2 separate regions of the Homo sapiens genome follow, and region 1 is reported to be linked to region 2. Evidence: microRNA targets listed by miRTarBase, many of them from high-throughput screens and not tested one by one. Region 2 holds a microRNA gene; the other region holds the end of a gene's coding sequence. Distances are from middle to middle.

What was found. The annotated mature microRNA hsa-miR-4272 reads CAUUCAACUAGUGAUUGU and lies in region 2 at 1,660-1,677, opposite strand. An mRNA with a match to its seed (bases 2 to 7 or 8) in the 3' UTR can be bound and repressed. Matches are read on the target gene's strand: a 7mer-m8 pairs with bases 2 to 8, a 7mer-A1 pairs with bases 2 to 7 and ends in A, and an 8mer does both.
Region 1: the mRNA of NDUFB5 is a reported target of hsa-miR-4272. Seed matches in the 3' UTR shown: 7mer-A1 at 1,963-1,969.

Annotation. Positions count from the first base shown.
Region 1 is chr3:179,623,546-179,626,545 of GRCh38, forward strand. NDUFB5 (NADH:ubiquinone oxidoreductase subunit B5) reads left to right here. Exons shown (of 6, transcript NM_002492.4): 6 at 375-3,000. The coding sequence ends at 495. Among named protein-coding and RNA genes, the nearest start is that of NDUFB5, 20 kb to the left of the region's middle.
Region 2 is chr3:67,223,639-67,227,176 of GRCh38, reverse strand. It overlaps MIR4272 (microRNA 4272), which reads right to left and starts at 1,713; the gene lies at 1,650-1,713.

The DNA of each region.
Region 1 (3,000 bases), 110 Mb from region 2:
CCCCTGTAGTCCCAGCTACTTGGGAGGCTGAGGCAGGAGGATCACTTGAGCCTGGGAGGTAGAAGTTGCAGTGAGCTGAGACTGCGCCATAGCACTCTGACCTGGGCAACCGTGCAAGACTCCGTCTCAAAAAAACAAAAACAACAAAAAAACTGTTTGATAGCTATCTATATAAGCAACATAATAAAAGTCAAAAATAAGTCCCAAATTTTGGTTATAGATATATACCAGATGTATGCCTACATAAGGGTCTGTGGAGGAGCATTATACTTTACATAAAAGCAGACTCCAGTGATTGTCCTTTATGGAAATGGCTCATTAAATTTATAATTGGAAGTGCTGGAATCTCAATATTGCTGTTCCATTTGTTACAGGGTAAAGGAGCTGGAAGTGCGAAAATTGATGCATGTGAGAGGAGATGGACCCTGGTATTACTATGAGACAATTGACAAGGAACTTATTGATCATTCTCCGAAAGCAACTCCTGACAATTAAGCATTTTTTTCTCCAAATACAAAGTATATTCTCTTTATTGGAAAATAAATTAATAAATATATTCTGTATTTTTGCTCTCCGTGAAAAACAAAAGAGCCTCTGACATTACTGTCTCTCAGTGTTGGTTCAGATTGAGGCTTTTGTTTGAGGAGTTTGGCTTCCAGTCCCCAAAGAAGGTTTAAAATGTACTAATAAAAACTGGAGAAATAGGAATTTGTGAACTCCTAAAATTGTAGCAACTTTGAAAGGTTAGTGTTTTATTTACCTGACAAATGGAAGTTATAGAAGTCTAATAATGTTAAGCACCAGTAATTATAGTATTTTGTACAAATGCCTGTACTGTAGATGTCTGTATTATTGAGGGGCAACTCAGGATTTTAAGTTCCATAAAGTATTGAACCAACTCTAAAATGTTAACTCCTTAATAAACAGATTCTCAGTAAACAAATTTTAAAGTTTATAATGCTTTCATGGTTTTTTTTTTTGCCATGTATTGTTCTTTTTTAAACTACACACAGACACACAGACACGTACACACACACACACACACACACACACACACACGCTCTTTTCCTAGATGCAATCTCTGGGATCCCTTAGAGTCCTTTTTTGGGGAAGTAGTTGCACTAGGTAATGTGATTCCTGCAGAGATTATAAAATGTGAGTAAAAGCTAAAAATGACTCATTTATTAAGCATTTATTGTCTGCTAGACACTATATTAAATAACTGCATTTTTTAACATTATTTTCTTTTCTTTTTTTTTTTTTTTTTTTTTGACGAAATCTTGCACTGTCACCCAGGCTAGAGTGCAGTGCCGTGATCTCGGCTGCAACCTCCGCCTCCCGGGTTCAAGCAATTCTTGTCTCAGCCTCCCAAGTAGCTGGGATTACAGGCACCCACCACCACACCCGGCTAATTTTTGTATTTTTCAGTAAAGACTGTTTCGCTGTGTTGGCCAGGCTGGTCTTGAACTTCTGACCTCAGGTGATTGGCCTGTCTCCACTTCCCAAAGTGCTGATTACAGGCCTGAGCCACTGCACCCAACATTATTTTCAAAATGACAAGAGGTAGTATTTAGTACCTGAGGCTCAGATGTTAAACACAAACTCAGTATTTACAAAAATAAACATTTAAAACATTTACACTTCAACTTCCAAAATGGCTTTTTACCATAAACATTCAGGATTTTCAAACCTGTAACAGCTTATCAATGCATCTCATCTTAGAAGTATGTTTTACATTCTTCATAAAAATAAAAATGAACCCAGGCTTCCTAAGATTCAGGCCAGTGGGTCTCCACTTAAGGCCAAATGGAGAAATAATTTTTTGCTGCCTAAACACACAAGTGAATTGAAAAGCCACAGGCCATTCATTCAACAAATAACTTTATTATTTTTATTGATAATGTACTTGTAATGTGCTATTTTGATACATGTATGCAAAGTATAATGGTCAAATCAGGGTATTTGAATATACATATATTTCAAAATATAGTTATATATTTCAAAATAAGATATAGCAAGTTAGAAGTATATATAAGTATATTATTATATGTTATTGTTAACTATAATTTACCTACTGTACTATCAAATACTAGAACTTATTCCTTGTATCTAAATGTATTCTTGTAACCATTAACTAACTTTTCTGAATTTCCTACTCTCCCCTTCCCTTCCCAGCCTTGTAACCACCTTTCTACTCTGCCTCCATGAGACCCATTTTTTAATCTCCCACATATGAGTGAGAACATTCAATATTTGTCTTTCTAGGCTTGGCTTATTTCACTTACATTAATGACCTCCAGTTCCATCCATGTTGCTACAAATGACAGAATCCCATTCTTTTTCATAATATTGTCCATACATACCACATTTTCTATATCCATTTATCTGTTGATGGACACAGGTTGCAAAGGGATTGCTGGATTGTATGATAATTCTATGTGTAGTTTCTTGAGGAACCTTCATGGTGTTCTTCATAGTGGTTGTACTACTGTACATTCCTACCAATGGTGGATGAGCGTTCCCCTTTCTCCACATCCTCACAAGCATTTGTTATTTTTTCTTTTTTTTCAAATGAACATTTTAACTGGGGTGAGATATCTTAATGTGGTATTGGTTTACATTTCCCTAATTATGGTTGAGCATTTTTTCACATATCTAATGGCCATTCATATGTCTTCCTTTGAGAAATGTCTATACAGATCTCTGGCCCTTTTTTTAAATTTTTTTTTTTTTTGAATTGGGGTCACCCAGTCTGGAGGTGATCTGGGCTTCCACATCCTGGGCTCAAGTGATCATTCCACCTCAGGATGACCCAAATAGCTAGGACCAAAGGCGAGTGCCACCATGCTCAGCTAATTTTTTTGTATTTTTTGTAGCGACTGGGTTTCACCATGTTGCCCAGGCTGGTCTTGAACTCCTGTGCTCAAGTGATCCGCTCACCTTGGCCTCTCAAAGTGCAGGTACTTTAGGCGTGCCTGGCCTTTTTGTCCATTTTATTTT
Region 2 (3,538 bases):
TATATTGGGAAAGGCCAAATTGTCATAGTACTCATTGGAGAAAAGGAGACAGTAAAAATTTTTAGGTAAAGCTAACCTACATTCACCTAATAAATGCTGAATAAATACCAGCAATGCTAGAGAAGCCATTTGTATGGATCCATGGTGTTTGGTTCAGCTGGGTTGAGATCTCCATGTTTCCATCATTCCTCAGGCACTATAAGCCTGTGACAAAATGGTGTCCTTGGGTCACACATGTTTTGGTCCCAGACTCGGTGTCCAATATGTCAGCCCATCAAGGCAGATGGTGAGCAGGACAATGTTTCAGAACTTTGGAAAATATACCACTTAAGAGTCCAGCCAGGGAAATGCCTGAAATTGAAAAATAATGTAATAGAATATTTGATTTGCCACCATAGACCTTAACTGGGAAGATTGCCACATTGAAATGAGTGGACAGCTTGGCTGACTTCGATCCTTCAGCTCTGCTTAGTAACTGCACATCAGTGGGTTGGGTCCTAGACTTTCAATGGGTCCCCAAAGTCCCTCCCCTAAACATTACACATCTACAAGCACATACCCCCAATAATATTTGGGGCTATATCCATAAAGTTGCAACATTAGCCTAAGAGCAAAGGTCTGAGCCAGTGGTCACTGGGTGTTTCCTCGGAGGGACTGTAGGTGGCCAGCAGAATGGATGGCAAGGCAAATGAAATGTCATTTCCATTTCATTCAGTTTGCTTTTTCTCCATGCTACCAGCTACTGACTTGGCCTCTTGGAAACAAAGTTGTTTTTCTGTGATTCACCAGAAACTTTCTGGACCTGAATACCTCACTTCTCCAAGGTTAGCCTCTTTGAGCCATTAAGAAGTGTTGTCCCTTGTCCATTCGGGGTTGAATGTCTGTTATTTCCCTCCCCACTGCCCCCCGCCAATATTCCTTGAACTTCTCAGAGAATATGTCTTTGGCATGCAGCCTGTGGAAGGCTGTTTATTTTAAACACCTGCAATTCTCTCTTCCTCACCTCACTCCCCTTCCAAACAAGGAATCACTCTTAGCAAATCTAAAGTGCTAGAGAGCTGATGGTTCTGGAAGCAGCCTTCAGCTAATAACAGATAGGGAAGGTAGTAGAAAATCCTCTAGCTTCTCTGGCCCTCAAGCAGGACCACTCTCTGAAGTGTGGTCCACACAGTCTTCCTGTAGTTCCCCGGTGAGGTCAAGCTCCAGGTTTCTAAGGCAATATCTGACTTAATAACACATTTTTAAAATTTGCTTTGTTCCTTTTCTATCTCACTTGCCTATGCCCCTCTTGGTATTTCCTGAGACCTTCCAAATAAACGATTTACACTAGAATCCTCCTCTCAGCATCTGCCTTGGGAGAGTCAGTCTCCATGCAGTAGGGAGGCTGTGTAAATTACATGCTGAGATTATGCCTTGCATTATCAGGAAGCACACAAAAAGCAAAACTACACAAAGACTTGGTGGATGAAAGACCTTCTCAGAAATGAGAAGACTGGCATTTGATAACATGCTAAGATGGCCAACATCTTTGAGTGGTTACTCTCCATTTCCCACAGTGAATTATAAGTCCCAGATAGGACACGGTCCATGACAGTTTTTGTTTACCAATGTGTCCCCATAAGGTAGACACACAGTAATATTGAGCAGATCTCTTATAACACAATCACTAGTTGAATGCTTTCTATGCATTAACTGATTAATTTGTGCAGAAAAGATCCAGCCCTTTGGATAACACAACTCCGTTGGTTAATGGTGCCCTTTCTATGGGAGGAGGATTCCTGATACTGCTAGTGCTGTCCTGATGACCAGCAGGGTCACAGAGATGGGAACTGACTCTGCCCTGGGAGTTGGCAAAGGAGACTTTTCATCTAGGTCTTGACTATTCCTAGGAGTCTAACGGTTAAAAAAAGGAAATGGAGTGGAGGGTGACAATTATTTATTTATTCAACAATTGTGTAATTTAGTACCAGCTTTGTGACAGGAATTCTGCTAGGCATAAAGAAGAAGTAGTGTTCAGGGACCCTGCCTTCTCAGAATTTTGATTGAAGCACTATTCACTTTGCATTCTTTGTGGAGTTGTACCACGTGTTCCTAGTGGTAGACAGCAAAGAAGTAAAAAAAAAATTTAAAAAGATTATGATAAATACGAAGTAATACAGCAGTGATTCTTAAATTTTAATTGGCATCTAGATCATGTGAGGATCTTATTTAAATGTATATTCTGATTCAGTAGGCCTGGGATAGGGCCTGAGATTCTGCATTTCTAATCAGGGCGCAGGTGGATACAGATGCTGCTGGTCCTTGGAGCGTATTTTGAATAGTATGGTGATAGGCTGTAGTTCTCAACCTGGTCTGTGCATAACAGAACCTGAGGAACTTTAAAAATGACTGATGCCTGACTTTACTCCAGCAATATTTGTCTAATTTGAATGGGAGAATCCTGGCATGATAGTTAACATTAGGTGTCAACCTGACTGGGTTGAGGGATGCCTAGATGGCTGGTGAAGTATTGTTTCTGGGTGCGTCTGTGAGGTTGTTCCTGGAGCAGGTTGACATTAGAATTGGTGGAGCGGGAGAGGAAGACTCACCGCATGTGGGTGGGTGCCATTCTCTTGGGCTGCCAGCATACCTAGGTCAAAATAGGCAGGAAAATGTGGGATAAGCTTGCTTTCTGAGTCTTCTGGCTCTTTTTCCTTTCCGGTACTGGATCCTTGCTTCTGTTCCCCCTGCCATTCGATATCAGACTCCAAGTTCTTCAGCCTTCGGACTCTGGGACTTGCACCAGTGTCCACCCCAAGGGCTTTCAGGCCTTCACCCGCAGACTAAGGGCTGCATTCTCGGCTTCCTTGGTTTTGAGGCTTTCAGACTTGGACTGAGCCACTATCAGCTTCTCTTTCCCCAGGTTGCAGACCACCTATTGTAGGACTTCGCCTTGTAATCATGGGAGCCAATTGTTCCTAATAAACTCCCTTTTATGTATACATATACGCTATTGGTTCTCTCTCTCTGGAGAACCCTAATATACCTGGGTATTGGCAATTTTTTTAAAACTGCTTTATTGGGTGTAAATTACATATCGTAAATCCATCTATCTTATTATACATTTTATGTGTACAAGTAAATAATTTTTAGTGTGTCTGTAATTTTGCCACCATTACCACAATCCAGATTTAGAACACTTTTCATTATCCTCAAAACATCTACTGAACTCATATGCAATTAATCTCAGTTCTCACCATCAGCCCCAGGCAACCACCAATCTACTTTATTTCTCCACAGATTTGCCTTTTCTGGACATTTCATATAAATGAAATTATATAATATGTGGTCTTCATGCCTGATTTTTTTATTAGCATGATGTTTTTGAGGTTCATCCTTGTTGTAACATGTATTATTACTTCATTCTTCCTTATTCCTTCATTGATTGTGTGGTATAAGTAGATTACATTTTGTCTAACCATTCACCAGTTGGCTGACATCAGAGTTGTCTCCACTTTTTGGTAAATAATGTTTCTTTGACTGTTCACATACAAATCTT